Linked DNA regions of Homo sapiens. The protein of the gene in region 1 interacts with the protein of each later gene in a pairwise test. Each region holds a gene or a part of one and is shown on either strand. Other genes may lie near its edges. The genes, in order: ESAM and C3orf52.

The links.
Region 2: the proteins of ESAM (region 1) and C3orf52 interact in binary tests that used the Homo sapiens proteins (3 or more experiments, as listed by UniProt).

The regions. Positions count from the first base shown.
Region 1 is NC_000011.10:124,755,020-124,770,843, reverse strand, and holds the start of ESAM (endothelial cell-selective adhesion molecule precursor), read left to right. Parts: upstream 1-8,553; 5' UTR 8,554-8,689; coding exon 8,690-8,759; intron 8,760-11,430; exon of another isoform or gene 11,431-11,710; intron 11,711-12,316; coding exon 12,317-12,495; intron 12,496-14,101; coding exon 14,102-14,303; intron 14,304-14,481; coding exon 14,482-14,637; intron 14,638-15,824. Other genes in the region: MSANTD2 (myb/SANT-like DNA-binding domain-containing protein 2), read left to right, coding at 2,816-3,668.
Region 2 is NC_000003.12:112,106,394-112,121,520, reverse strand, and holds the end of C3orf52 (TPA-induced transmembrane protein), read right to left. Parts: intron 11,979-15,127; coding exon 11,908-11,978; intron 8,721-11,907; exon of another isoform or gene 8,623-8,720; intron 8,558-8,622; coding exon 8,376-8,557; intron 4,880-8,375; coding exon 4,875-4,879; coding exon of another isoform or gene 4,523-4,874; 3' UTR 3,311-4,522; downstream 1-3,310. UniProt on the Homo sapiens protein: Has a role in LIPH-mediated synthesis of 2-acyl lysophosphatidic acid (LPA). LPA is a bioactive lipid mediator involved in different biological processes, and necessary to promote hair formation and growth.

The DNA.
Region 1 (15,824 bases):
AGAGAATTGCTTGAACCCAGGACACGCAGGTGCAAGACTCTGTCTCAAAAAAAAAAAAAAAAACCAAAAAATTAGCTGGGCGTGGTGGCACACACCTGTAATCCCAGCTACTCGGGAGGCTGAGGCACAAGAATTGCTTGAACCCAAAAGGCAAAGGTTGCAGTGAGCCGAGATGGTGCCACTGCACTCCAGCCTGGATAACAGAGTAAGACTCTGTCTCGAAAAAAAAATGTGAGTTATTACAAGGCAAAGCGCGGTGGCTCATGTCTGTAATCCCAGCATCCTGGGCGGCCAAGGCGGGAGGATTGCTTGAGCCCAGGAATTAAAAACCAGTCTGGGCAACATAGCTAGACTCTCATCTCCACAAAAATTTTTAAAATTCACTGGGTATAGTGGCATATGCCTGTAGTCCCAGCTACTCAGAAGGCTGAGGTGGGGGGTTACTTGAGTCTGGGAGGTCAAAGCTCCAGTGAGTCATGCATTCCAGCCTGGGTGACAGAGCAAGATCCTGTCTCCAAAAAAAAAAAAACAAACAAACAAAAAAAAAGAGTTATTACAAATGTATACCTTCAAACCTTTATTCTCCAAAAAAGTCACTGGCTTTTTCATTAAAGTGTCCTATCTCTTCCTTATAATCATTCAGGACCTTCAAGGGAGGCCCAGTTGGTATAACTAGGAATGAACTCAAATTTTATGGATTTCATGTCACCAATCTCAAACCACTTAAACTTTTCTGGTGATTGGAACTTCAAAAACCAGGAAATCTAACAGACAGTTCTCAGGAATTGTTTAAATAACTGAGTCTAGTTTTCATTGTGCTCCAGAGCTTTGAAATGCTGGTTTGAATCTTGAGCCCAAATCAGCTTCAGGCTCATATCAGCAGGGCAGGAAACTGACAGACTCTGAGGAAATATCCAGCCTGTGCTGCCTCTCCTCCAGGTTTTAGCTCTCAGGGTGAGAGATTCTGAACAAGATCTGGGTAGGCCATTTATTTTCCAGTGCAAGAGTTTATTTAAAATGGTTCTTTGCAGGGTCTGACTATAGCATTAGTGCCATGACAATGCTGAAAAAAATAACGTGATTTGGGCATGGGATTTCTTTTTCTCTGTAGGTATAGGTGGGATTAGCTGAACCTGGCTAATCCCCTAGTCTGCTCATTTATTCAACACACGTTTCTCAAGTGCCTACTATATGTCAGGCATTGGGATACTTCATTGAGCATAATAGACAAAAATCTCTGCTCTCCATCCCAACTCCTTAGCATAGTCCTCTGTAAGATCAATAAAACATTTCAAAGGAGGGCAGGGAAAGATGGTAGCTATGAAAGATAATTTTCCTTTAAAGCATCGACCTATGCAGAAATATGGTCTATGTCTTAGCCTCATAAGCACCACAATCAGACATCATAAAATTGACCAAGTGCTTTTGTCTCCTCTGAGAAGAGGAATAATTCCCTGAGAAGGTAGTGATTTCATCTAGATAGCCACTCTCATACTTGAAAGCTTTCAAGACAAACTAAAGGATAGAGGGTAAATTCAGGGCAGTCTTAGCTCCAAGAAGCAGCTGATAACAAAATATTAATTCTCTGCCATCTTGCAAAGAAAGTCAAGGAGAGCGAGAGGACAGACTGAGAATGGCCACGTGAAGCCTCGCCAGAATGTTCCCAAAGCTCCTCCCCTAGAAGGTATGAGAACGTAGCAGGAAAAGTCTCAAGGATCAAGCTCCTTCCAGAGCCCGTTTTCAAGAAGCTGTTAGCACGCACACCCCCTTTCTTGCCTGTGTATGATTGTATGTAAGTGTGGTAGTTGAGTGTTTTTATAGGTTAAACCCGTAATTGATGTGGAGGGTAGTAGTTTGTTGCCAAGTTAATATTTAACGAACCAATCTTCCAGTATCAAAGTTTTGCTGTACTTGAGAAGCAAACTTTATATAGCTTCATATATATACAAATTACATGATTTAAGCAGCCCGTGAAATAAAAATTCCAGCATTTTCTGTCTTCTTCTGTTAAGTATATGAGTCAAAATTGAAATAATTCCTATATTTTTGCTTCCCTTTATAAAGGGTTTTCTAGAACAGTCTCAATTTATTATCTTGAATGTTGCTCTCTTGAAATCTAAGCCTAATGTGAGCCTTTTCCATCTGAATTCCCAGATCTTAATTCTGTGCTAACCTGACTTCTATTAATTTTGGGATTAGTAATGAATTTCAGACAAATAGAAAATGTCATTTTAAAAAGGTCATTAGCCATAATCAGTTGTATATTTTCCCACAGCACACACAAAGCCCATTATTGGACTTTCTGAATTTCCAGGTTAGAAATTAAGCTGTTAATTATTTTAAGTGACGCCAGATACTTTTCTAAATACAGCATTTTTCACCTTATTTTGGTAGGTAGGTAGGTCTGAAGGCCATCATAGACATAATAGCCACTTTAAAATATTATGATCCATAGATTTCTGAAATCCTAGAGTCTAAGGTATTGATTCTGATTATACAGTGAGGCTGTAGAAGTCATGGAAAGCAGTTTATCATTAATTCTTAGAAACTTGCTAGGGGTGTGTTTCTTTTCATTTTAATAGGTTGATTGTCTAGACTTACACTGCCCAGTACAGTAGCTGCTAGTCACATGTGGCTATTTAAATGTAATTTTAAACTAAATATAATTAAAAATGTAATACCTCAGCCACATTTCATGTTCTAGTGGCCACCATATTGGGCAGCAGATACAGAACATTTCCATCATCACAGAAAGTTCTATCTGACACCGCTGTTCTAGATACTTAGGGAATTTGACTTTTATTTGTCTTTCCAGGAAGAGAGACATCATGCAGAATATTGTACAGATTTTGGAATCGGTACAGTTGAAATGGGAACTTTTTCAGAGCTGGACAGACTTTTCAAGGCTCCATCTTTCTAATAAACTGGCCATTTTTGGAATTGGTTATAACACCCGTTGGAAAGAGGATATCCGTTACCATTATGCTGAGATCAGCTCCCAGGTGCCCCTTGGCAAGCGACTTCGGGAGTACTTCAACTCTGAGAAGCCTGAAGGACGGATCATTATGACCCGAGTGCAGAAAATGAACTGGAAAAATGTTTACTACAAATTTTTAGAGATCACTATTAGCGAAGCTAGGTGCTTGGAGCTGCACATGGAAATTGACTGGATACCCATTGCCCACTCCAAACCAACTGGTGGGAATGTTGTTCAATATTTATTGCCTGGGGGTATTCCTAAAAGCCCAGGCCTTTATGCCATTGGCTATGAAGAATGTATTGAGAGGCCCCTCTCACCACACATGGAGCAAAGTTCCCTGGACCCAGGAAAAGAGGGCCGGGTTGACCTGGAAACCCTTTCAGCACAAGCCTCATTACAGGTGGAAATAGAACCCACCCGAATTATCTATTGCTACCTCGGGATTGCTGAGGTCAGGACTCTACAGCAGTGCTTATTTTTACATTTCCAAGCGAATACCAAAACCTTCAGCAAAGATTGGGTTGGTATTAACGGGTTTTTGTCTCAGAACTGTATTGTGGATCCCGGAGTTTCCCCCAAATCCATCTACATCAAATTTGTAGAAGTAGAGAGGGATTTTCTTTCCGCAGGCTCTTTAGTTGAGTGCCTGGAAAAAGCCATTGGATACCCCTTAAAATTTAACAACTGAATGTCATCCTTCATAAGGATTTGGGCTCTTAGCTCCTTCTTCTCTACTCACTTCCCATTACCCGGACCACCCCTCATCCAGATGCCGCCGTCAGACTCTTCATGGAAACCCTTTCTTCAATTGGGCCAGTACGACTTCTAAGGAATCATAGTAGACTTGGGCCAGAAAAAACAGACCTCACCTGAAAATGCTCATTTTGAGCAAGCAAGATATATAGCGAACTTGCATGGTGGGTCAGCTATTTCTTTTTTAAAAACAGAAAAACAATTTTTAAATGGATTTTAGAGCCCTAATATAAACAAATGTAGGTACATTCCATATTGGACAAAACTTATACTTTGAGTTTCATATGAAATTGAAAAATTGTATTTTTTTCACAATGTTTCATTTTTACACATCTCTATGTCTCTATATAAGTAATATTTACAACCCTGAATAAATAAGCAATAGATAATGGCAAGTTAAATCTTGATTCACAGTTAAAAAGACTTTTTCAATATCACCCTTAGCTACTATTGTATATAATTTAGATTTTCATTTTTTTCACCAGCCAAGTGTTTTGCTATTTCCAATCAGTATTGCTTGCAAAGACCTTTGTTTCTGTGATGTACCAACTTTACAGTTGTGTTGCCATTTAAACCTTTTTTTAAAAAAAAAAAATTAAAGTAATTCCTGGCCCCTTGGCGTACTAGTTGAGCTTTTTGTAGCAGAGTGTGGCTGCACTGGCAGTGGGGGCTGCGCTCTGACTTGACTGCTAAGAATGAAGAGAACAAACAGAGCAGGGTATCTTCACATCCTTTCATTCTCTATACCTCACTGACCAATGTCATTATTTACTGTCAGAGTACCAAAGGTCACTGAACATCTCATTTTGTAATTCTTTGAAAAATGACTAAAAATGACTAGGATAATCCTTTTGACCCTAAGTACATCAATTTGTAAGAGACTCATTCCTCATCTTTTACACTCAGTACTCAGGGGCAGCTCTCAAGGAGTACAACTGGAAAACTGATGTAATCTTGCTATCTCTCAAAAGGAAGGAAGATCCAGTAGAAATTTTTTTTTTTTTTTTTTTTTTAAGACAGGGTCTTGCTCTGTCACCCAGGCTGGAGTGCAGTAGTACAATCATAGCTCACTGCAGTCTCGAACTCCTGGGCTCAAGTAATCCTCCTGCCTCAAAGCTTCCTGAGCAGCTGAAACTACAGGCTCAAGTGCCACCACGCCAGCAATGTTTTTCACTTTTTTTTTTCTTTTTTTGGTAGAGACATGGATGGTGCTATGTTTCCACCGAGCTGGTCTCAAACTCTTGTCCTCAAGCAATCCTCCCACCTTGGCTTCCCAAAGTGCCGAGATTACAGGTGTGAGCCACTGGGGCCAGCCCAAAAGTATTCTTTTAGGAGAGGGAATTGAGAAGTATGAGTCCAGTAGGAAGGTAACTGTCATGTTTAGATCTTTCAGAGATTTCTAATGGGCCAACCACCACTCCACTTACAGGTTCGTACTCTTGGCTCAGAGTCGCTTACTAATAGAGTAGTCAAGGATCACTTTGGTCTCATGGCAGGAATTTGTTAGATTGGTTATTTATCTTTATGATTTCCCAGCATCTCAGGTGCTCTACTTTAAGTGAGCCGCAAATCCAGGTAAGAACTCTCGTTCTTCTCATTTTTCTGTACTACTGAAGATATAGTTACATATTAACAAAAAGTGTTCTTTTCCTGCAGCCTGAATGTCTCAAATCAGTGATTTTCTCATTCTGATGCCTGTTGGTTGATTGATGCTTATTTATTTTTGTAATAACTAGAGAGCTTATAATCAGTGAGATGGCTTTTATTTCTGTTATTTGAGTCTGGGGTTATGGAGTTGGGTACTAGTTCAGGGAGGATATAAATAAAATGAGAATGTTTTGAGTGTAGCACCTGTTCTCCCCAGGCAGCATCTATAGTCAGAGGCCTGAGGAAATCCTCTTGAGTTTGCTCTTCTTTGGAACTTAGAATTCTGATCCTAATGGCTGAGGCAGTCTTGACCATCTTTTAGCCATAATCCCATAGTATTCATTGCTAAATGCTGTAGGAAGAAGGATTATTACCAGGAATTCTTCATGGCATCTCTAAAACGTTGCCACTGACGAGTCCCAAAACTAACATTATGCTCCATGCATTTTTTTTCTGCATCTTCCCATTGTTATTAGTTGCTCAGCTGGAGCAGAACATTTGGGGAACATTTCGTGAGGATGTTTTAGACCTACCAAACATTACCGAGAATGGGACATTGCTAGACCCACTATGAGCAGCATGGAGAAGATAGCAAAGGCTGGATCCAATAGATGTTTTCATCATTTGCCTTGGGATGGGTGGGGGTAGAGGACAAAGATGAGCATTGGGAAATGGAGGTTTACCAAGAAAGTAGCTTGCTGATACTGGATCTCCAGTCTCTTTGGCCAGAACAGTCTAGAAAAGAAGATAGCAGGATGTCAGATAACTATGAGCACTGCCGAAAATAAGAAATGGAATATTTAGACCTTAATGAAGCCTTATAACTGATTCAAGGGGGACAGAGAAAGTATATTCAAATGTAAAGGTAAATATTAGGAATTACTTTCGGAATCTAACATGAGATGTGATTGGAAGAAACACTAATGACCTGCAAGTCTCTAACATATGAAACTATGAACTAGCTCTTGCACACGTTTATGTAAGCAGTTCCCAGGTCGCACATAGATCATCTGTGTCAGCATTCATGATTTACACCAGGGTGGAGAGCAGTCCACCCTAAAATGCATCTTGGTGAAAACTTTCACAAAGTAATGGAGCTGCTCTGCTAACTTCTACGACTTGACTGCCCTCAGGGTCAGAAGAAAGAAATAGCTGAAATAGGAGACAGGAGACAGTGAGGACAATTCTTTACGGTCAAAGAATCTTGAAGAGACTGCCCCTGTGTCACATGGAGACATTCACTGACTACAAATCATTGGTTGCAGCTTTACTTCCCATGTCACAAGTCATTTGGGATCTGAATTCTGAAGGAAAAGTTAGCTACAGGGAATGAATGTTGAGGCTACACCTTATGTAGCACTTGATCAGGATAAGCACAGCCTGTGTGATTAGATACTTGGTGTTTCTGGGTTAGAACCAAAAGACTTTGTACTTCCTCTCTTGGAAGGAGTTACTTATTTGGGGTGACTTGTCTGGAAACAAAGGAGGGGTGTTTACAAGAGATGGTTTGCAATGCAGACTAAAGCCAAGAAAAATTTGAGTGTGATGGAATAGGAAAACCAAACCAACAGCCCCCAACCCCACCACACAATCTGCTTGGCCAAGTCCAAGTTTGTAGCTCCCTACACAAGAGTGTGAGACTGGCAGGTATCTCTTCCTGTTGTCTGTGCCTCCACTGAGCTGCCAAGTACTAGATTCTAGGGTTTGCATGAGCAGTTTTGTGTTTGCATAGGCATTTCTCAAAGCCACTGCATGGCAGGTATTTGAAGAGGAGCCAGGCAGGTCACACTAGAAAGAAGCAGCTGAGAGGGCATATGGGGCACTGTATAGAAAAAGATCTTGTGTGAAGTGTGGGCCCAGGGACTACACTCTGTTAAAACAGCAAAACTATGTGCAGTAAATGGAATCCCGCAGGCCTGGCTGCTTTTCTTCCCAGACAGCTCTGCCCGCAGAGCGGGCAGCGTCAGGAATTCGTTGTTATGCTTTCTTCCCTCACTGACCTTTGCTGGGTGGTTGAGCTGTGCTGGGATGTTTGAAGCATTTTTTTTTTTTTTTTTTTTTTTTTTTTTTGGCTGTTGGACAGAAAAGCAAGAACAGGTGCGTGCCTTTCTGTAAGGGAGCGGCGGCCGCCAGAGGGCGCAGAGGTGCCTTTTGACCGAATGGCGCGGGAAGGGGGGCGTAAAATTCAATTCACAGCGACCAAGATCTAGTCTCGGGAATTAAAGGATCAGAGCGCGCCTGAGCCTTTCGCTGCGGGGATGGGAGGCACTGAAGATTTGGGGGATAAAGAAGAAACGGAGGGACTGTCCTGTCTTCCTTCCCGCAGCCGCCCCTCCTCCCCAGTCAGCATCAGGCCCGTACGCCGCTCATTTCAGGGGCTAAGCTGGGAGCAGCACGCACGTTGCCTCAGTTTCCTGCTCAGCTCCCGGGACTACCTTGTGCCAACCTTCCCTGCTCGGAGTATGAGGCACAGGCCGGGGTAATCCTCCAGCCTGGGCTGGGGTCTGCTGAACTCGCGGAGCGCTTTTTCCTGCCCGCGGGTGAAGATTCCCCGCTGGCGCGTCCCGGGGCGCCCTGGGCTCCCGCGCGACCTCTGCCGTCGCCCTCGCTGCCGCGCTCCGGTGGCCGCGCAGCCCCCGCCTCCAGGAAAGCCACAGATTCCCGCTGTGCCAGGGAGCCCGCGCGGCCGGCGCTCCGGCCTCTCCCTGCAGCTGGAAAACGCTGCTCCCCTCTTCCTCCTTCAGGAAGACCGCCCTGATTGGGCCGGGGATGCGGCACCCCCAAGTTTGGAGCCAGAGCCCAGGAGCGTTTACATGTCAGGTGTTACGGGTGGTTCTGACTTCGGATAGTCCCCAAATTTCCCACCCTTCCTGGTCACCCTTCCTATCCCACCCCGGCGGAAGGGAAGGTTACGGCTCAGGATAGTTCTGGAGCCTCCTCTTCCCCCTCTACTCGTACCTGGCTGGCTCGTGGGGCATCAGAGCTTACCTCACCCCTCCCTGCGTCCAGACCTGGAGGAGGCCGCAGGGTCCCGCCGTCCGCGCGCTGGGGGCGCCCCCGGGCGGCGGACCCCGCGCGCCCCGCCCGGGAGGACGGCGACCTCTCCGCCCCCTCGAATGCCCCGCCCCGCTGTCGCCGTCGGTCCCCACCCCGCCACCGGCACACAGGCGCGCAGACTTGGGCTGGAGCCGCCCTGGGTGTCAGCGGCTCGGCTCCCGCGCACGCTCCGGCCGTCGCGCAGCCTCGGCACCTGCAGGTCCGTGCGTCCCGCGGCTGGCGCCCCTGACTCCGTCCCGGCCAGGGAGGGCCATGATTTCCCTCCCGGGGCCCCTGGTGACCAACTTGCTGCGGTTTTTGTTCCTGGGGCTGAGTGCCCTCGGTGAGTGAAACCCGGACCTGGAGGGGACTTGGGATGCGGGATGGGGTGAGTTCGACCCTGAGGGAGAACTTTGGCCACTGCTGCGGAACTGGGTCCCACGACTCGCCCTCCTCCCCTGACCTCCTAATCCCACTCCAGGGCATCACTGGCTGGCGCTGACTTCTCGCTTTGTCGGGGACAGCCCCCAGTTTGGGTGTGGGGGCGGATGGCGGGGGGAGGTAAGGGCATCTCTCGGAAGACCTGGATACCTCTGGGGTGAGTTATCGGAACCATTCCTCACCCTGTCCACTCCCCACCCCCCACCCAGCAGAGCCGGATGAGCTGAGCCGCTAGATGAGACACTGGCTAAAGAGCTTAAGGACTTAACTCTAGCCCCCTCTCATCCCCGACCCCACATACAAGCTGATGAGGAAGATCCCCCGGGGAAATACCCCTGGTCCCCAGGCTTGACACACGCACTTCGTGTCAATTCCCCAGCGCAGATGCTCTCTCTTGCCCCCTCCTGCTTCCTGCCCTGGGAATCAAGGGAGGTGCCCCAAAAGGACGACCGTGAGGTCATTTGGGACACAGGAAATGGGGGAGGGGTTCAAACGCACAGAGAAACAGAATTGTGACCACCCCACCCCCCCAAGGCCCACCACCCTTATTGGTTTCCAGAGCCAAAGGGAAGAGGGGAAATTGGGAGGAGGGTGGCCAAGGGTCAGAGAGGAAGGGAACCTCCTTGGAGCAAGTGTTTGGGAAGTGTTGTAGGCCTCCAGGGGCGCTGGCTTCAGCTGAAGCTGGGGTGGCTCAGAACTCCATCTGGGAGAGGACCCGGCAGGACTAGGCCCTTTTAAACTATTTCACTTGCTGTCCCTCAGCTTTCTTGCCATCTCCCTTCAAGGATCTCGAATGGGAGTGAAGGGTGGGTTTAGCTATATTGACTTTAACTCATTTCTCAGGTTGGAGGATGTCAGGACAAGTAAGGCCTGGGAAGCTGTAGAGTGAAATTCTACAATGATGGGGACAGAGATGAGGATCACCAGTGTCCCCTTTAGCATGTTCTGTGCCCCACAGGTGTCGGGGCATGCAATATTATAGTCCTTGGACAAAATGAGTCTCAAGTACAGCCCCCCAGGCCACACCAAGGCCACAAGTAGCCTTCTGTCCCTCTGGGCTTGGTGGGCCTGCTCCAGGATCCCTCAGACTTCTCATCCCGCCTTTCCCAACTTCAACTTCAGCTCTGTTCCTTCTGCATTCCACCCCAACTCTATCCCCCTTCCTTGTGGGGGGTGGGGGCTGGGGGAATCTCTGAAGCCAGGGAGGACAGTTCAAGTTGACTGCCTGAGTGTCCCAGGCTTCACCTGCTGCTCATCTGCAACCCTTTGTCCTACCCCAGCTTTGAGCCTCAGTTTGTCAGACTGAAGACCTGGACTCAAAAGTTCCAATCGGTCCCCCTGGGGGGTTGCCCAGTTCCCGCCAGCCACTCGAGGGTTAAATGGCACTGGTGACCCCGGTGCAACGTGCAGGCGCCCGGCTCCGCTCTTCTGGGCTCTGGAGGAGGCTCTCCGGCTCAGTAGGCTCCTCGGCGGCTCAGTGCTGCTGCCCCTGGGGCGTGAGAAGCCCGCGGGGGGAGTTTCTCAGAGAAAGAGGGAGACTAAAAATAGCCCCGGGGAGCGGGCCCATTTCGCTCTCCTTCGGCCCCTGCCGGCTCCCTCACTCTGGCCTCGGAGAGGGCTGTGGGCCGGAAGGGTCCCTTTCTTGGGCTGTCCCAGTGTCCTTCGATCAGACCCAACCAGACTCCTTTTCTCTCCCAGTGGCTCCGTGGACCCTGGGACCGAAAAAAACGGACCAGTTGGTGACTTCCGAGCCAGCAGACACCCAGGAGGGAGAGCAGAAAAGCCTCAGGCCCTCTTCTGTTCCTAGTTTCTGACAGGGCGAAGGGCAAGGAGCATGTGCCCAGACCCCAGTGTGTCCGTTACTATCTCTTTTAACTCTCCTCTACCTTCTGGAAAGTGGAATTATAAATGTGGGACCTGGGGAGGTCGCTGGTGGTCCACAAGGTGAAGGAAGGGCGCGCCCCTTCTGGGCCCCAGGCAGTTTCCCGGCGGAAACCCTTTCTGGCCGCCGGGTGTGTGTCGTAGAAAGGCTGGGGGAGAGCCGGCAGCACCTGCAGGCTCCAGGCGTGCCCGGCCTCAGCGGAATGGCCAGCGGGCCGGGTCCCCAGGGGGCGTCCAGCTCCTTGAGGCGGGGATTGTTTCCTCCCGTAGAGCCTCCGGTCTAGTGGCCCCCCCTTCATTGTCTTCTGCCTTATCACTGGGTACAAATTTCCTGCCCAGACCACAGAGATCCTCCAGGAAATGGGAAGGGGGATGCTGCGAAGGCCAAGTAACAGAGGTGGGGGTTCTGTACGGCGCAGCCGGGAAGCGGTGGGGGAGGCTTGCATCCTGGCCGGATCGGCTCCCAGCCCTTAGAGGCCTTCAGCCTGGCTCTCCTAGGGCGAGGGTGGAGAGCGGGGCCTGGCTGCGGCCTCTTCCCGCGGCGTTGGCCGCCTGCTCGCCACGCGGAGGTGGCGTCTTCCGCTCCGAGGCAGAGGGCCGAGGCCTGGAGGGAGTAGGGCCCGGGACTGGAGCGGCGATCATCCTCAGGCCTGGCCGTGTGCAAGCCCAAGGTTATTCCCCAAAGGGCTTACCAGTTGGCTGCTCTGTTGCCTCCCCGAAGGGCAAAGGATGAGTATTTCTGGACGCCGTGGTGCAAACGATGGCCCCCTCCTTGAAACCAACACCCCGGTCCACCCCCTGAGCGCCGGACACACTCAGGGGAGGCTTCATACTTGTCTAGAGACCGTCGTTCGCGCTGCCCTTAATTCCTTGCCACCCGAGAGTTCTCTGCCCAGATCGCCCGAACCCCAGAAGGGCTCCGAGGAGCTTTCTGGGTTTCAACCCTCCGTTTTCCGAGGGAAGCCCGCCTCTGAGATTGCGCGGGAGGGCGGGGAGCATCGCATTCACTGGGTCAGGCTTGGGCGCTGGGCTGCTCTGCTCTCTCCAGCTCCTGGCAAGCTCAGAAGGAGCCGCAGGGTTAATAGGTAACCAGACGGCCTCCCAAACCCCTCCGCCCTTTGAGAACTCGGGAGTGAGGGACCCTGGCGGCCCGGAGCAGCATCCCTACTCTCCCTCAGGAAAACTAGGGAAGCAAGTGGGCTACGTGGCGCGTACGACAGAAACAGTCGGTCCACCCTTTCTTCTCATATCTTCCCCTCCTCGCTGGAAATCTGCCCCCTCTCTTTGATGCTCAGAAATCTGCGCCTCTGGATACGAATAAATGCATATAAATGTGTCCCCATCCCCGCTACAACTGCAGAGGCTGGCGGTGGAGAGAAGTCGTGATGAAATGGGAAGCAGGACACTGAGCCAGTGGTCCCTGGGCACCCCTTGAGGCCTCCAGGGGCCGGACCCCGCAAGGTTCCTCTTTCCAGTTAAAGCGACTTTCCTCGCTCTCTGGTGAAGCCGCGTAGGGCAGGGTCCGCGGGCGGAGCTGGGAGCCGGTCCTGGGCACTCACGCCTCGCTCTTGTCTCCAGCGCCCCCCTCGCGGGCCCAGCTGCAACTGCACTTGCCCGCCAACCGGTTGCAGGCGGTGGAGGGAGGGGAAGTGGTGCTTCCAGCGTGGTACACCTTGCACGGGGAGGTGTCTTCATCCCAGCCATGGGAGGTGCCCTTTGTGATGTGGTTCTTCAAACAGAAAGAAAAGGAGGATCAGGTGAGGGAAGAACGCCTGTCAGCCAGCGGCAAGTTGCGCCCAGAGGGGGTTGTAAGCAAAGAGCTGGTAGCGGTGGGAGGGGTGGAGAGGGAATGGGGGCCGGGGAAGGAGTTTCAGGGAAAAGCAGAAGTCTTCACCAGTTCAGTTTTTGTTCTGATATTGGAGACTTCCCAAACAATTATCTTTTGCCGGCTTTCCCTAAAAATCCAGCACACAAAATACTGTAAAAGTGTGAGAGGCATTTTACTTGGTTATGAGGGAGGAGAGGAGGAGGGGAAGAATGGAAGTTGAGGACTGGGAAACGCTTAGGGGAAGTAACACACACGACTTATAAAAGTTAGCATATTTCTGGCCTGACTCAGTGACTCATACCTGTAATCCCAGCACTTTGGGAGGCCGAGGTGGGCACATCACTTGAGGCCAAGAGTTCGAGAGCAGCCTGGCCAATATGGTGAAACCCCCGTCTCTGCTAAAAACACAAAAATTAGTCGGACATGGTGGCACCCGCCTGTAATCCCAGCTACTTGGGAGGCTGAGGCAAGAGAATTGCTTGAATCCACAAGGTGGAGGTTGCAGTGAGCCAAAATCCAGCCACTGCACTTCAGCCTGGGCGACGGAGTAAGACTCTGTCTCAAAAAAAAAAAAAAAAAAAAAAGTTAGCATATTTCTGTTTTCACATTCTCTGCTTTGAATACTGTCAAGTCACAGGCCACTTCTCTTCCCAAATGATTCTCATCTGTCACCTTGCCCCCCTGTATACCACCTTGAGAGCCAAGGGGCCATCTCCTCCCACAATCTCCCACCCATCTGTTTTGACACCGGGCTTACATCCAAATACAGATTTACCCCAGAAGAGAATGAAACAATGTTCAGAACCCCTGAAAACTGTGTTCAAGGAAGTCAGCTGGATTTTTTTGAGACAGGGGTCTTACTCTTGTTGCCCAGGCTGGAATGCAATGGTGCAGTCTTCGCTCACTACAGCCTCTACCGCTCCTGCTCAAGTAATCCTTCCACCTCAGCCCCCTGAGTAGCTGGGACTACAAGCACACGCCACCATGCCAGGCTAATTTTTGTATTTTTTGTAGAGACTGTGTTTCACCGTATTGCCCAGGCTGGTCTTGAACTCTTGGACTCAAGCAATCCACCTGCCTCAGCCTCCCAAAGTGCTCACAGGCATGAGGCAACGTGCCCAGCCTCATTTGATACTTTTAAAATACATTTTTAATATTTTTTTCCTCCAAGATGCCTTCCCCATTGTGTAAGTTTCAGGTCTTACAAACCTGGATCCACCCCAGCAGTCTGAGTTGCATATATACATACCTCCTATTTACATGTCCCTCCTCCCACTATTATGTCACCTTTCTAAACACCGCAATTGGGAGATGAGACAATGCGCAGGAACGAAGAACTGTTCTGGTGAAGAGGACCCAGGGGCAGTGAGAGGGGGCTAGGGACAAAAGGTGAATGGGGAGCTGGTTCAGGTTAGAAGAATGGGTGCATGTGAGGGGCATTTGGAGAATGCGAGCTGGGGGAGGGAGAGTGGCTGAGCCTGTAGGCACAGTAGACACATGTAGTAATGACGGGGATGTGTTATGCCCCACACCAGGTGTTGTCCTACATCAATGGGGTCACAACAAGCAAACCTGGAGTATCCTTGGTCTACTCCATGCCCTCCCGGAACCTGTCCCTGCGGCTGGAGGGTCTCCAGGAGAAAGACTCTGGCCCCTACAGCTGCTCCGTGAATGTGCAAGACAAACAAGGCAAATCTAGGGGCCACAGCATCAAAACCTTAGAACTCAATGTACTGGGTGAGTGAGAAGCAGATTTCCGGACCCCTCCCCACCTGCACTGGGAGGTCTGGTGAGTCTCTCTCCTAAATGACAAAAGTTGGAGGAGGAACAAATGAAGCGACAGAAGGGTGCAGGGCAGAGGGAGAGGATCTGTGGGTCTCCTGGGTGTGGTTTTAATCTGTCTCCCCCTGCCCAGTTCCTCCAGCTCCTCCATCCTGCCGTCTCCAGGGTGTGCCCCATGTGGGGGCAAACGTGACCCTGAGCTGCCAGTCTCCAAGGAGTAAGCCCGCTGTCCAATACCAGTGGGATCGGCAGCTTCCATCCTTCCAGACTTTCTTTGCACCAGCATTAGGTGAGGACACTACTGGAAACAGTGGACACTGTGGCTGGGGAAGGGGAAAGATGAGAGGTACCACAGGGACTGGGGTGAAAAGGGGAGCCAAGGCTGACAAGCACTGGGGAGGAGGAGGAGGATGTGGGGAGGATGTGGGGCAGAGAAAGATGCCCTGCCAGGGGCAGGTATTGTGTTAGGTGCATTCACATGTGTATACTGTTATGAAACAGGCTCTACAGCTGGAGTGTCTGTGTTCAAATTCCAGCTCTTCTAGTGACTAGCTGTGTGACTCGGTGCCTTCTTTCCTGAATTTGTAAAATGCGGATTTTACACATATCAGCTTGAACTCATTAGTGTGACTTGAACACACCAGTTATAAAAAAAAATTTTAGGGATAACTGAAACATTTTTAATATGAAGTATTCGATGATTTTAGATAGTTACGTTATTAATTTCCTAGGCGTGGCAATGCTATTGTGGTCATATGGAACGACGTACTGCTTTTTTGGAGATTTATGCTGATGTATTTACTTTAAAATATCTAAGTAAAAGAAAGAAATCAAATAAATATGGCAAAAAGTTAGCAACTGTTGGATCTAGGTTGTGGGAATATGGATTTTCATTTTGCCTCTTTCTACTTTTCACATGACCATTTTTATAATAGTAGCTTTTTCTTTTTAAAAATACTACTTATTACCTCACAGGTTTGTTGGGAAATTGTGGTAAGTTCATACACATCAAGAATCTAGAGCAGTCTTTGGCACAGAGTTAGCAGCCAATAAACATTCACTGTTTTATTTATTTATTTATTTATTTTTATTTTATTATTATTATACTTTAAGTTTTAGGGTACATGTGCACAATGTGCAGGTTAGTTACATATGTATACATGTGCCATGCTGGTGTGCTGTACCCATTAACTCTTCATTTAGCATTAGCTATATCTCCTAATGCTATCCCTCCCCCCTAAACATTCACTGTTATAATGATTAGTCCATATAGTCCTTTCAACACCCTCAGGGAGGTCATATTGTCCCCATTTTACAGATGAAGAAATGGAGACCCTCAGATATCAACTAACTTGCTTAAAGTCAGTCACATGGCCTGTTCTGGAACCCACGTTTACCAGTTCCTACCCCAGTGTTCTTTCTCTCTCATCACACTGTCTTGCCGAAATAAAAGTAAAATGGTGTTTTGGTTTCTCT
Region 2 (15,127 bases), on another chromosome or scaffold:
CTCTCTTCCTCCATCTGTGACTTTGAACATGCTACTTGGAGGCTCAGCTTCTTCACCATCAACAGGAGGATTACATCTAATGCAGGCAATCATCTATTACAGATGCCGAATAAATGATATCAAAGAGCATAGAGAAACAAAAATCTTTTATGATGTACGGAAAAAAACCATGCTGATACAGCTGGCTATTCAGGGTCACCCAGCAGTCCTCCAGCAAGGTAGAAACACCAAATCAATGAGTTTATGCTAGAATTTTTCACATGGCCACTGGACCATTGTGGAAGTAGACTGGTTGAAATATTCTTAGTATGACATAGTAAGTTATATTTGTTTGAACCTTATCCTGTGAAAGCATTATCTGTCCCAAACAGTATATGCCTTTTATCAGGGACACATTAAATATAAATGTTTAACCAAAGAAAGTTGTTCTTATAATGTAATTATAACAGGGATTTATAAGAGGGAATTATAAGAGGGATTATGAAAGGGAATTACTTTTGAGCAAGGGGAGCCATTTGGGAGTGCTTCAAGATACCCAATATGATATACACAATTATGATTTGTCAGTCAAAAATAATATTAAGAACAAAAAAAGAGTTAAAAAATTCTGATATGAGTGTAATATACTTAATATGTAGGATGTCTCAAATTTCCAGTAAATAAATTTTAATGTCCCAAAATACCCACTATGTCTGTATGTAACACTGATCCTGTTTCCCCTACATTTCATGATTTCTAATGAAAGCTGTGCACTCCCTTTGCAGAAAATGCACATTCACATACACACACATTTGTATACGATGTGTGCGGGGGTTAGGGATGCAACCCCTCAGTGAAAGAGTCCCTGTCCCTGATAAAGAACCTGAGCCTGAGCATTTAAATTACTCTCTCGAGCCACAAATATAACCAGAAAACTCCTCCTCCCTCATGCTGGTCTTAAAACTACATAGCCAAAATTCAGAGGCACAATTTATGCCACAACTGCAGACTTTGTGGTTTCCGTTTCACGTACATACTAGCATCTATAAATAATCCCTTATTCTGTGAATAAATTCTTATTTAAAACAGAAGAGAAAAATAGGAAGAGGGCAAAGATAGGGCGGGAAAATCTGTTGACAACAAGTTGAAATGCTAACGTTTTTTAGGACAAACTTGAGTGATAGATGCTTCGGATAGTCTCAGGGATGGGGAAGGGCATGGACAGAACAGGAAATAGAAGTCTCCAGGATTCCACAAGGGCTCCAGGGAAAAGTAGATTCTGTTTCCACTTATCTCTGTTCTTTTCCAAGCCTATAGCCTCAATTCAGAAACCCACTTGATCTGAGTGTACCTTGGCTCTGCCAACTGTGAAGTGGACCAGTGTAAATTCCGTCTACTTTCCTACAGAATTCTCTTTTGCAAGGCACTTGGTGAAGCCTTGAGAGGTCATCATCATCATAGAAAGCCTCCTGCAGTCTGAGGGCCCTCCCTCTCCATTCACCCCTGACCCCTGATCACTTGTGCTCCTTAGGGATTCCCAGATGTCAGCTAAGCCTGAACTGAGCCTGCCTCTGGGGATCCTACCTGAGCTGGTGGCCATTCATAGTATGTGGTTGCCCTGTGGGCTAGGCTTTGCCCTCAACAAGCTGTGGAACTCTGGGCTGGTCCTCCCAGCTCTCCAGAATTTGATTTCCCAACTGTGAGATGAGGGAGGTGCCTTTTGAAGCTGAGTCTGTAATCTCTAGTCACAAAGGAAAGATTCAAGGATGTCTGTGGATAAAGCTGCCAACAATGCAGCAATTGTTAATTCACAATGCAGTGTAAATTAACTTATTTTAAAGCAATGAAAGAGTGATGGGAGAGGAGAAGGAGGACATTGAGAGATTTCTCCCATTTTTTCTTAGCATTGATCAGACTCTGAATAGGACAGGATTCATGTCCAGAATTCACATGTAAAAGACAAAAGAGAGAATATGTACCTCATCCTAAGAAGACACGAACATGTGTAAAGGAAGGCAAATCTTCTTATTCAAATCCCACCAGTGCTTCAGGATTCGGCTTCAGTCCTACTTCCTACAAAAAAACGTCCTCTGATTATACTGACCACTCTTTTCTCTGACCACCCGCAACCCTACTGTTTCTGTTTGTTTGTTTGTTTGTTTGTTTGTTATGGAGTTTCACTCTTGTCACCCAGGCTGGAGTGCAATGGCGTGATCTCAGCTCACTGCAACCTCTGCCTCCTAGGTTCAAGCGATTCTCTTGCCTCAGCCTCCTGAGTAGCTGGGATTACAGGCGCCTGCCACCACGCCTGGCTAATTTTTAGTAGAGATGGGGTTTCACCATGTTTGTCAGGCTGGTCTCGAGCTCCTAACCTCAGGTGATCTGCCTGCCTCGGCCTCCCAAAGTGCTGGGATTACAGGCTTGAGCCACCGCGCCCAGACTGCCTTTGTTTTTGACCCCTGGGTATTTTTTTCTGCTGTTTCCTGTTTCATCTGTACTGATCCTGACTCCTTAATAAGACTAACAGCTTCTTTTCTTATTGTTGTCTTCTCCACTAGTATCCCCATAGCCTTCCATAAAACACATCATTTTTTCAAATCTGTAGAACTAAATTAAATTGAAAGGCAAAAAAGAATCAGACACATGGCTGGAATTTTTGTTGGCAGAGGAACAGGAGCAGGTTCTGCTGATATGGCTGTTGCCATTCTATCCATATCTAAGTGACATCCAGAGAAGAGCAGTTTTCTTCTCAAATCCTTCAATTATTAAAACCTCACTATGTACCAGGCATTATGCTCATCATGATGTTGTGTGATGACCAGTAGATTTATCTCCTATAGCAGAACAGTGCATTTGTAAGGGCCGTTTTTTTTCAAACACCACCAAATATGTTAGTCACAAAGGTTAGTTTTTTCCCATACCATTTGGGCAGAAAAGTCAAATCTATGGAAAGTCCTCTCTATGACTTGCAAATGGTCAAAACCCAAGACAAGGTACTTGCATCTTGGTGCTTTCTGAACAAGAAGGGAAGAACAAAACCAAATCCTGCCTCCAGACATGAACAGGCTGTTCCTTCAAGTCCAAGCCCTTTCAGATACCAAGTCCTGCCAGAGAGGGCCTCAGAGAAAGAGGAGGGGATGGCCTCTGCCTGCTCTTGCTGGAACAGAGGGGAGAACCCAGGCCGCCCCAGCCAAACTTGGCTTGATCTTATTCACCCAGAAGAGGAAGCTGCCCTAAGGGAAATGAAAAAAATTATGCTCAACACCATTTACTGCAAAAAACAAACAAACAAAAACCCAGCCCAAAGCTCAGCCAATGGGAATGCAACAACACAGATGCAAAAATAATGTATTGTAAATGTTTTTAAATCATTCTCCATTAAAATTTTTCATTATTTTCTACAAAATACAAATACACTAAGGTTCACATTTAACATGCAGAAAATAAAGAGGAAGAAGAGAAATCCACTAGTTTCACTAGTTTAAGGAACAATCACTAAAATGAGACAATGATCTATAGTACATGTATCTTCTAGTTAAATAGGAAAGCAAATTCACATTATCCAGAGTCCTGGGTCATAAAGAACTCAAGTCAAATCTAGTCTGAGGCAGACACTCTGGCTCGTGCCCGCACACAGCTGCCCTTCACACTGACTTTAACCCAGGGCTCATTTAACTGAGAGGCGAGATCTCTCACAATACAGCACAAAACTCTTTCTCCTGGTAAATTTCTTTTCCCAACAAAACAATCAGTTCCCTCACAACAGGCAATTCTGTATCTGTAGACAACCAATACAGTTGCTAATATTCCTCCTACCCCCCAAATAGCTGGCAAAAGCTTCCAAGAGTTTATTTTCAAAGAAGAGTGGTTCTTCTTGTATCACAACCATCTGTAACAGGATACACAATCATTGCCTGAAGACACTGAGTCCCACAGGAAGGTTTGTAGCACTAGGCAACAAAAAGCCAATGCGTAATATCCAGAGCAGATATTAAACAGCCTTAATGATTCTCTAATGGAAGTTTATAAAAATATAAATGGAGTGACTATCCAAAGTGATAGTAGTGTGCTCAAAACTCACAGAGACCCATATTTCCAAAAAGGTGTTCAGGAATCACAGGAACAACGAGGAGCTGCAAAATAATGAAGAAACACATAGCTCCCGTCTGTAACTAGCTATATACATAGATTTCAAAGTAACCTTGGTGGTGTTCCTAAGGCTGGCTGGCTAAGATACTCAGGTACAGGTCATGGAAGTAGACACAGAACCACACTGCTGAGGTCTTCTAAAGTGCCTTCCTTTTCTTCACAGCCTGGCTTAGAGGTAGATCAAATCGAATGGTGGGGGGGAGGAGGATGACTTCAGTGAATAATTGGCTTAGTCTTCGTAACCTGGCTGCCTGCCTCTCCGTGCTCTACCAGCTCATGCTTACGCGATCCCACCTAAAAGAAGACAGTGCACCTCTGCACTAAAGAAAAAGTAGCCCAGGTGGGTGGAGTGCTTCAAGAATAGCAGTGCCATGATCACGCCACCGCACTCCAGCTAAGCGACAGAACGAGACCCTGTCTCAAAAAACAAAACGAAACAAAACAAAAACAAACAGAATACCAGTGACCTCCAACAGTGGGACATACCCGCTGACCCTATCGCCCCCACCCTAGCTGGCTTCCTGCCTTTGTCAAGACTGGACCCAGCTGAAGCAGTGCTCGGGAGCTGTTTTACTGGGCTTAGAGCCAGACTGTAGAATCGGGAGAGAAAGGAGTCTCCACCCCTCTGGTGTTGCTGGTGCTTCTGTATTAATCCACAGAATCTTTTCTGCAAAACAGAGTGAATTCCCTTCATCTCCAGGACTTGGTAGAGCACTGCTTTCAGACAGAGACCAGCCTCCATCACTTCATTCTAAAAAGAAAACACAGATGAACAAAAGTTACTGATTTTTAAAACCACTATTAAATGCTTACGTTTTCATTTCATTTCATTGAATTTTAGTGTAAAATCTTAGATAAAATTGCAAGGTTTATACATTCCTAACAGAGGAAATTTAGTCTTCAGTCCAACACACACACACCGCTCTGAATACATTTCAAAAGGCAAATGACATTTATTGTTTCTTGCTTATTTGTTTGGGTAGGATGCATGAGAAATAATTTTGATGATGTGGTTTTTGGGTGCTAAGGACATTTTAACATCCAGTCCCTTTTCATAATCTAACCATAAACTCTAAAATTTCCGTTTTTAAAACGTGTAAAATATACTGTGAGAAATTCTGATGAGAGAAATGGTGTGAACCCTAGGGCACAGCAGGTGCAGATGCAAAGCCCCAAGCAGACACAACACAGGGGGAGCCCGCCGGGGTCTACAGACCAGGAGTCCAGCCTCGCCACCACTGACAGGACTGACAAGATTCACTATTCTCCCTACCTGGGGCTTTTTCCTCTTCTCTCTCACAAAAATCCTGGTTTTGCCCTTTTTCCCTACTCAGTCTACTAGCTGACTCCTTCCCATGTGAGAACAGTACCAAGTACCTCCTCTGTGTCCAAAATAACTCATGATGCTGACCTATTCTTCGACCTTTGTAAAACAGACTTCCCCCTCCTAGCCCAGGGCCCCACTCATCTAGGAGGTGAAGAAGACCAAAGATAGGGAAGGGTGAGGGATGATGGACTTAAAAAATTCCTTTATCATTATATTTTAAGTTTTTATTTTTATAAGGCATCCAAATATGCATGCAGTCAGGTCAAAATAATCGCCGTATTTCCAAATTAGAGAATGAGAAGCAAACACACACAAAACCCCTCAGGAATCTAAATTACAATCTAATTTTGGATTCTGCTTCTAAAGCGCACATATACAAACCCCAAATGGACCATAGGCTGGCCTCAGGGAAATACTCGGAATCCCTGAAATTGTCTGTACAATTTTGTGTTGTGGGGAGAAGTAGGTACATTTTTTTTTCCTGGGGAGAAGGTACACAGCTGTCTTCAAATTCTCTAAGGAGCACACAAACCAAACAATTTTAAGAATCTTTGCTCTTTGAAGACTAAGAACATTACCATTGTGGGAAACTAGTTGCCTGGGTAATCACAGGGCGGGGATGGTAATCCCCCAAGCCCACAGCTCATGAGCACGTAGAAACTGGCGTAAGAACTCATTCCATCCCTCTTGGTCCCTCCCAGGGCCCTGGGCCTCTCCCTGACACATTTTCCCTTTCTCTAGAGTTTGCCTCTGAGCTCATCCCCCATCTGCCTGCATGCCTGCGATGAGTCCCTCTTCTTCTTTCCTCACTTCCCAACTGCTTCTCTGTGCACCCTTCCCTTTGAGAGGGCAGTGACACTCACATTCTGAAAACATAAAATGGCTCAAATATTGCACATTCATGCTCTGGAAAGTGGGACATGGGGTCACAGAAAACCCCACATTTTCTCAGCATGTCCCGTCAGAAGAAATGTCTGAGAGAAAGAATGCAATTTCCAGAAGAGCAGAGACTTTGTTCCACTCACAGCTGCCTTCCCAGCACCTGCTGGAGCACCAAGCCCTGGGGAAACAGCTGAGTCTCTTTGGCCAAGCTCAGGGTCTTCTGGGAGCCCTCCTCAGGTCTCACAAGCAGCCTGCCCTTTATCCTGTACTATTTGAACCTCTCAGCCTTGGAAGCCTCTTAAACCTTTCCTCAGACCTCTGCCCATCTCCCTGGCCTCCATTTGGAAAGAGCCAGTAACAATTTTTGCAAGGGGCCTAAGAAAATCAAGACCAACCACACCACAGCAGCAGCCCCCACAGGCATCGCAGGCCTCTTCACATGGGAGGAGGCTGAAGGTTTCTGGGTTTTTTTTTCTTTTGAAATGGAGTTTCACTCTTGTCACCCAGGCTGGAGTGCAATGATGCGATCTCGGCTCACCGCAACCTCTGCCTCCCAGGTTCAAGTGATTCTCCTGCCTCAGTCTCCCGAGTAGCTGGGATTATAAGCACCTGCCACCATGCCCGGCTAATTTTTGTATTTTTAGTAGAGATGGGGTTTCACCATGTTGGCCAGGCTTGTCTCGAACTCCTGACCTCAGGTGATCCAACTGCCTCGGCCTCCCAAAGTGCTGGGATTACAAGCGTGAGCCACCGCGCCTGGCTTTTTTTTTTTTTTTTTTAATTCCTGTAACTGGGGCACAATCTCTTCACTCCACACACATATAGTGTCTGCCTGACCCACAGACACACTTTATTCAGGATGCTCTGTGAGGAAGATCTCCATTTATGAGACTTCCAGTGAGCTAAAATTTGGCCTTCTGAATGGCATTCTTAAGAACTGTTTTACATAACGTTCTGCCTTCTTAGGCCAACATTACTCTTGCCTCTCATCCTCAAGAAACAGTGTCATCATCATAATAAACACCTTGTCTTGTACTATGCACTAACACTTGTGCTTTTAACCCCCTGTTCCATGCTTCTGATTCTAGACCGTTAATGCACCTGCTGCCAACCACAACTACTTCTAATTTGCCTTTCATTCATTCAACTAGTATTTACTGAGAACCTACTCATGTGGAGAAAGTGATTCTGATGGACTGTGGATGAGAACATAAAATATTCAAGATTGTTGGCATTAGGGGCTAAATAAGAGCAAACAAGCCTCCGAGCGAGGTATCAGAAAGTGAGATCAGCAGCAAAGGCCAGAGCTTCACTACAAAGCAATGGAAGGATATTTTGAGGGCTTGAAGCCATTTGGCCTTCTGACCTTCCTTTCTGTCAGGTTTTGTTCTGAGTGTCAAAAGTTCTCAGATTCTGATAAATGGGGTGTTTGTTACATTTATTAAAGAACATATCTATTTCCTTGTTCTGTTCTTAATTTTAAAAGTTGACAAGTAAATTTGTCATAATTTTCTAAGGAAAGGAATAAACTTGTCTTTGTATACCCCTCTATTAATTTCTTAATGGTCTCAGTGGCCTTCAACAGAAAAAGAAATAGGTTCCCCATATTGAGATACTCTTTCAGCAATTTAGCTGTATCATTTATTTCCAATTCTTCAATTCTTACTTCTCTTGTGAAACCACAGTATCTCCATAAAGGTTGCTAATCATGTTGTAAAGTAGGATACAGGGCTTAGAATGTGGGTGAACTGCATGAGGAAACATGTAGCAATGTTCATCTTTATAGTTGAATTATCTTTTCCATAATTGCTCCCCAACTACACTGTCTAATTATGGAGGGCACGGACTGTGTAGCCTCCACAGAGAGGGGAACATCACCTCACAGCAACACCATCTGCTGAGGGGATGAGTGAATAAATGAATAGTCTGACACAGTACCAAGTCACCACAGTTGCCAAATCGAACCAAGCCAATTTGACCCCAATCTGGTTCACCTGTTTATTGTCACAACTCTGACTTCTTTACTTGCTCTACTTACCATAGAGCAAGAGGGATGTTGGATCAAGCCCCAGACTCTCACAACCAGGTATATTCTGATCACGGAAATCCTGTAGCAAAATGCCCAGCACCAACTCCTCACTCATCATATACTTCATAAAATTTTCATCATCTGATGGAACCCCAAATTGCAGGTCATACGTTACTGTGGCATTTTCACCACTGAAAGGCAATGGAAGACATTAAAACATAAACAGCATCATACTGCAACTCAAGAAATGAATTTAAGCAATAACTTTTTTTTTTTTTAGTTTTGCATGTTCTTCCAGTACAAAATAGCAAAGAATGTTCTGTCCTGGAAGAACATACTGTCCTATAAGAATCCTCTTCCATAGATTCATCACAAAAAGTTGAGGTGATCCTAACCTCCTCCTTCCACCTAGTACCTATCCTCTAGGAATCCACTGGGAGAGGCCATCAGAGGTAGAGGTAGAGGTGCCCATCTCCAGTCAAGATGCTGAGAAGATCCCAGGCTTGACCCACCATCTGTCCCAACCCCAGCCTTCATCCCTTAAGGCAAGCCAGGGAAGCCTCCCCTTTTCTCCACACACATTCCTTCTTCATGTTCTCAGCATTGCCCCCACAAAGGTGTGCCAGGGATATTTAGTTTAACCAATTCTTTATTTGACCTATGAAAATGTTTAAGGCACAGCCAAAGTTTCCTACCATTGGCTGGGTCCAGAACTTCTGAACGTTGACAGAGACCACCCTGTGTATCAGCAACAAATCAGGCTTCCCTGGTTTGTCCCCAAAGTGAGAAACTTTTCTGTCCCATTTCCAGAGGCCCCTAGGGCAAGATAACCAAGCCCTGTAACTCTCAGTAATGGGACCTAAGGAAAGGGAATTTTCATCTTCCTAGAACATTTTTTCCCATTTCCAAAATAAAAATAATCAAGGGCTACCCTCCATTAATTAGTGTCTAATGCTACTCTTTAAATGCTACTTCAACATTTAGTTTATTCATAGTTATCCTATTACTTTGGTTTAAGATGGGCCAGATTAAGAACCAGCAATAAAATAATGAGCAGGAGGCCACATCTGAGACTATCACCTTGGGGAAGTTTTGCAGATGCACCAGTCCCATTAGTGTGAATCAGGCCACTGCCCCTGCTAAGGATAGGCAAAGAGCTCCCTCTTCTGGCTACAGGTCACATAGGCCGATACTCTTCGATCTTACAAGGTGGCTGACAATTGAGCTTATAAACTCTACTACGGCTGGGAGATGTGCCAGATCCTGCAGATCAAATGAATAATGGAGAGTCAGGACTCTGAAGAAACTCATAGTTTCAAGGATGCCACTAAAGGAGGGCCAAAAAATGCACTTTCAAACTGCAATCCAGCTAACCTAGTTTGCAGGTGTCATAACTTGTTCCCTGAGCTCTGCCCTCTAATTATCGCTAATGATGATCAACACCTACACAGCCAGCCACCCTGCATTCCCAGGGGCAAGGACTTGGGCTGGCTAATGAAGAGGGCCAGAGTCTGACTTTCAGAAGACCAGGTCAGAAGCTGAATGGGAAAATCAGGCCACCTAGCCTGGCCTGGCCAGCCCATCCTAATCCCCCATGGCAGGTCACAGGGTAAATTTACATGAGGCTGAATTTTGAGAAAAGAGCAACTTTCAGGGCCTTTCGCCCAGCTGCCCACCACTGGAGTGAGTCTAGCAGCTAATAAACCAAAGGGCATTTTTCCAGGTTCTAGCTGGGCCAGTCCAGGGCTGAGGTCACAATGCCCCTGTAGACACAAATGCATGTGCCAGGGATTTAGCCGCCTCCCACCCATGTGCAGCAGCACCCTTTGGGAAGCAATGGCTTTTCTTCCTCAATTCAATACTTTAGGACCTCTGCCTGGACTTCTTGAAATAAAGTGCAGAGATGTCACCGTAAGTACCATGTACACTGGGTCTGTTTTGTTTTGTCTTGTTTGAGTCTCTCTGTGTCACAGGCTGGAGTGCAATGGTGCGATCTCAGCTCACTGCAACCTGCGACTCCCTGGTTCACACAATTCTCCCGCTTCAGCCTCCCAAGTAGCTGGGTTTACAGGCACGCGCCACCACGTCCAGCTAATTTTTGTATTTTTAGTAGACATGGGGTTTCACCATGTTGGCCAGGATGGTCTCAATCTCCTGACCTCATGATCTGCCTACCTCAGCCTCCCAAAGTACTGGGATTACAGGTGTAAGCCACCATGCCCAGCCCATTGGGGGTCTTTAAAGAAGGAGATCAAAGGCAGCCTGCACCATATGTATCTGTAGACTTCAGGTCTGTTTGGCCCCACACCATGGTGCTACCTACCACCTGCTTTATGTGCCTCCCCTCCCAGGTCTGCTAATATTAGGGTTTGGAGAACTTATAGTTTGAAGGGGGAATCTCAATATAATACAACTTTTGATGGTCATATTCCAGAGACATCTCAGGCATAATGGATAATGAAGCTTTGATATAAATTTTAAGTCATCTCCAATAGTCCCAATGATGTAAAAGGATAATAAATGGACTCTACACACATACACCCTGATGCCTACATCTCAAGAACATTAAAGATGAGGAGGAAATTTAAAAAATAAAAAATACATATGGGTGTGTATATCCTATGTGTGTGTAGTATTTGTGGTGCCTATGGTAGATACATGAACAGAAGTAATTACACTCAACTCTTGACAGCTATTACCTCCATGGAAGGGAATGGCATTAGTTATTGGTGGTGGCAGTGGAGAAGAAAGGAGGCAGAAGGGAGACTTTTCCTGTGCATACCTCTTTATGTCTTCTTTTTTTTATTTTTATTTATTTTTATTTTTTTGACAGAGTCTCACTCTGTCACTCAGGCTGGAGTGCAGTGGCGCAATCTCGGCTCACTGCAACCTCCCCTCCCGAATTCAAGAGATTCTCCTGCCTCAGCCTCCTGAGTAGCTGGGATTAGAGGCACCCACCAACACACCTGGCTAATTTTTGTATTTTTAGTTGAGACAGGGTTTCACCACGTTGGCCAGGCTAGTCTTGAACTCCTGACCTCAAGTGATCTGCCCGCCTTGGCCTCGCAAAGTGCTGGGATTACAGGCGTGAGCTACCACGCCCGGCCCCTCTTTACATCTTTAATACTAAACAAGGAGAATGTACTCCTGTATTACTTGTGCTCCTCAAAAGCAAATGCCTATACATGTATCACTCGCATCACAGCACGACCTGAGATCTATTTCTACTTCTACCCTTAGCTTATTTGAGCATTCATTGTTAAACAGAAATGGTTTACCTGGGACTGGCTTTTCCCCTCTTCTGTGTGACCCTGGTTGAATTATACCATTAATCTGGGCTTCCTTTTTCTCATTTGTAAAATAAGGGAGTTGAGCCTGTTGGTGTAAAAGACCTTCCCAGCACTGACATTCTGTGATTCTATTACAGGTTCCCTTCATGCTCTGAGGCTCTGGGAATCCCTGCTAGGTAAATGACGAAGGGTGGGGTGGGGGGATCTCTTTCCAGAGAAAGAGAGCAAAATGTAATGTTCCACACTCTTACCTGAAGTCCACTATTTCAACTGAAGTAAAATAACGACCCAGAGAGGGCGATGTACTGTACACATCTGTGAGCTAAACAAACAGAAGCAAATTAAACCACACACATTACCGACAGATCATATTACACATCACCTGACAAAGCAAAACTGCTTCTAAGGCAGAGGAGATTCCACTCCAGCCTGGAATCAACGTTATCTGGAAGCTCTGGATCAAGAATTGAGCCCACCATAAATCAAAACTCAAGTTAATGCTACTTCAAAAGAACTCCATTTATAAGGACCAAATGACTCAGTTTCTCTCAGAAGTTGCACTGGCACCCTGTGGCCTTAGTGGTGAGAATATCAGCAGCTGGAGCCCACACAGGCCTCACAGACCATAGGAAGGAGAGAAGAGAAGACCCCAAAATGGCTGCTGGACAGCAGCAGCACAGACCACTTAGCACCTGGGACATTGCTTAGCCCAGGGCTTCTTTCTCCCTTCTCCAGAGCTTCAGTGTAAAGACAAACAGCCATGCTAAGCCATGGGTCTAGCACATCCCCTGGACAAAGAGACAAAGAGGGGAACTGCAAAAATATGGAGGCTTTATTTTATGCATGAAATATTGCAAGCATCATAAAAAATAATGACACCTGTGTTTCCACTACCTAGCTTTCATGTCTTCATATTTGCTATATTGGGTTCAGCCCTTTAATTTAAGAAACAAAATAAAGCTAAAGTGACTCCTACATACTATTCAGTTCCTCCTCTCTCTCTTTCTTAATACTAACCATCATTCTGAAGCTGGCATGCATCCTTTCCTTGCATATTTTTACAAATTACTACTTATTTATGTAATCATAACAAAATATAATTTGTGTTTTTATTCAAATAAAAGGCACCATATTCTACATAATCTTCTAAAACTTGCCTTTTTTCACTCAAAATTACATTTAAGATTTACCCATAAAGTAAATCTCAATGAAAGGCATTCACCTAACTCCTGCACAGATTCCTTTAAATGAGTATACCAGCCTATCCATTCCTCTGATGATGATCACATGCACTATTCTCAATTTTCCCCATCACAACTTATGCTGAAGCAATCATCCTTAATGTCTCCATGCATCTCTTCTTGGACATGCGGGAGTTTCCAATGGGCATATGCCAAGAAAAGGAATTGTTGGGTTTAAGGGTAGGTGCATCTCCAACTTCACAAAATTGTTCTCCCTTTCCCACCCCTCCCAGCAATGTATAAATATCCATTTCCCACATCCTTACCAGCACTTAGTGTTACCAAACTTAAATTTTTACCACTCCGAGGAGTATAAAATAGTGCTTCACATTGTTTTAATTTGTACTGCCTCGCTTACTAGTGAGGTTGAACATCTTTTCATGTTTATTAACTCTTTGGGACTTTTCATCTCTGAATTTCTCACTCATTTCCTTTCCTTCTCTTGGCTTATCTGTCTTTTTCTTATCTATCTGAAGTGGTTAGTTTTATATTCTGGATACTAGTTGTTGATATTATGTTACAAGTATCTTTTCCCAGGCATTGAGTAGTTGTGTTTCAGATATCTGAATCCTAAACTAGTAGTACTAGGAACATGTGCCATCCCCAGCTACAGCCATTATGGCTTAATGACCTATTACTTTATTCAATAACAAGCAGTCGAACATACAAAAAACAGCAGTGCCCTATGGGGAGCTTACCCTGTTTCCCCTCAACTCCAAATGGAATGTCAAGGACGCTGCACTTCCACAATACACTCCCATTTAACTCAACATGTACAACCCATATCTCAAAGAGAACAAAAGATGAGAGTGCCTGCTATTTCTGCTCTTCTAATCTTGTCACTACTGTTGTGATCTTTATAAAAACCTGGCAAAACAGGCATTAATATATCTCCCCTTTTTACTGGAAAATTAAACAGCACTCCATTCCATGAGATGAAGAAAACCTGTCCCAGGTCACTGTGCTAGTAAAAGGAGAAGCCAAAATTCAATCCTACATGTTATGAACACTAAAAACCAGCTTCTTCCCATCTGACCACACTACCCAGTGAAGAAGAAATTGATATATATACAGTGAAGGAAAGTGTCTCCTGAATATCAAGGAGGAAAGAAGCTTAAAGTGACAAAAACTTTCGGAGAAAATGACTGAGTCATTGTACAGCTCTTAAGCCCCAATGCACAGGATGTTGCCGATAGGCTGACAGTCATTTAGAAAACTCGGGAACTAGGAAAGCAGCTTTCACGGGGATGCTGTGATGGAGAGGAGGATGAGGATGCTGCAGAGGAGAATCTTTTCAAGCACTAATGTCAAGCACTCATGTCTTTCTCTTCCTTTTGGATTGAGCTTCCTATGGCAAAGGTGATATTTATCCTTCCTTCCAGTCTTCTCTGCTTCCTCCTTCCCTTCTTTCCTTTATTAATCTTTAGGGCCCAGCACAGTGTTTTGCACATAACAGGCTTTCAGCAAATTTTTAAGTTAAAATTTTAAGGTAACATATGGAGTGGTCGACTAAATCATTTTTAGTGTTCACTCGAAGATTCTTTTTGATCATGCTCCTCTGCTGTACTTAGGACATATTTACATTTGGGGAGCTGTTAGTCACACTGTCCACTTTGGGCCCAAAGAAGTGAAATAGGGTGGTTCCTCAACCCTTAGTCTTGTGTCTCCCACACAATGTCTATGAGGCTTGGTGCAAACTGAGCAAGGAGCTCAGCGAATTGATTAGCTGAGTCTGATGCAGTGGCTAATTAGAGACCAGCTTCCAGAATAAGGCAGGTGCCATCATTAACTCCTAACCCATGCACAGGGTGTGGTAGTCACACAGGCTGGCTTAAGCAGAGTAATGGCCCCAACCCTGAGAGGAAAACACTGTGGCAGTGACACATGGCAGGGCCTGTGTTTAGAAAAGTCAAGGGAAAGGGCATAAAGTTCCAATACTGTGATATAATAACAATATGTATACTGTTTAGTCTCTGCCCCAGTTCCTGGCACAGAATTCCTAAAACCCTTGTTACTTCCTGAGTGACAGGGGCGCCGGGTACATCTTTTACTCTAACATTTGGTCTTTACTCCAGCTCCTGACACAGACCTGCTCCTAAATCTCTTGCAGTTTCCTGGGTTATAGGAGTGTCTTTATTTCTGATGAGGCAACTCTTGGCGGGCTGCTGGATGGGGGCTGATCATCAGAAAGACCAAGCCGCAGCTAGAAGCTTGGAACTTTCAGCCAGTG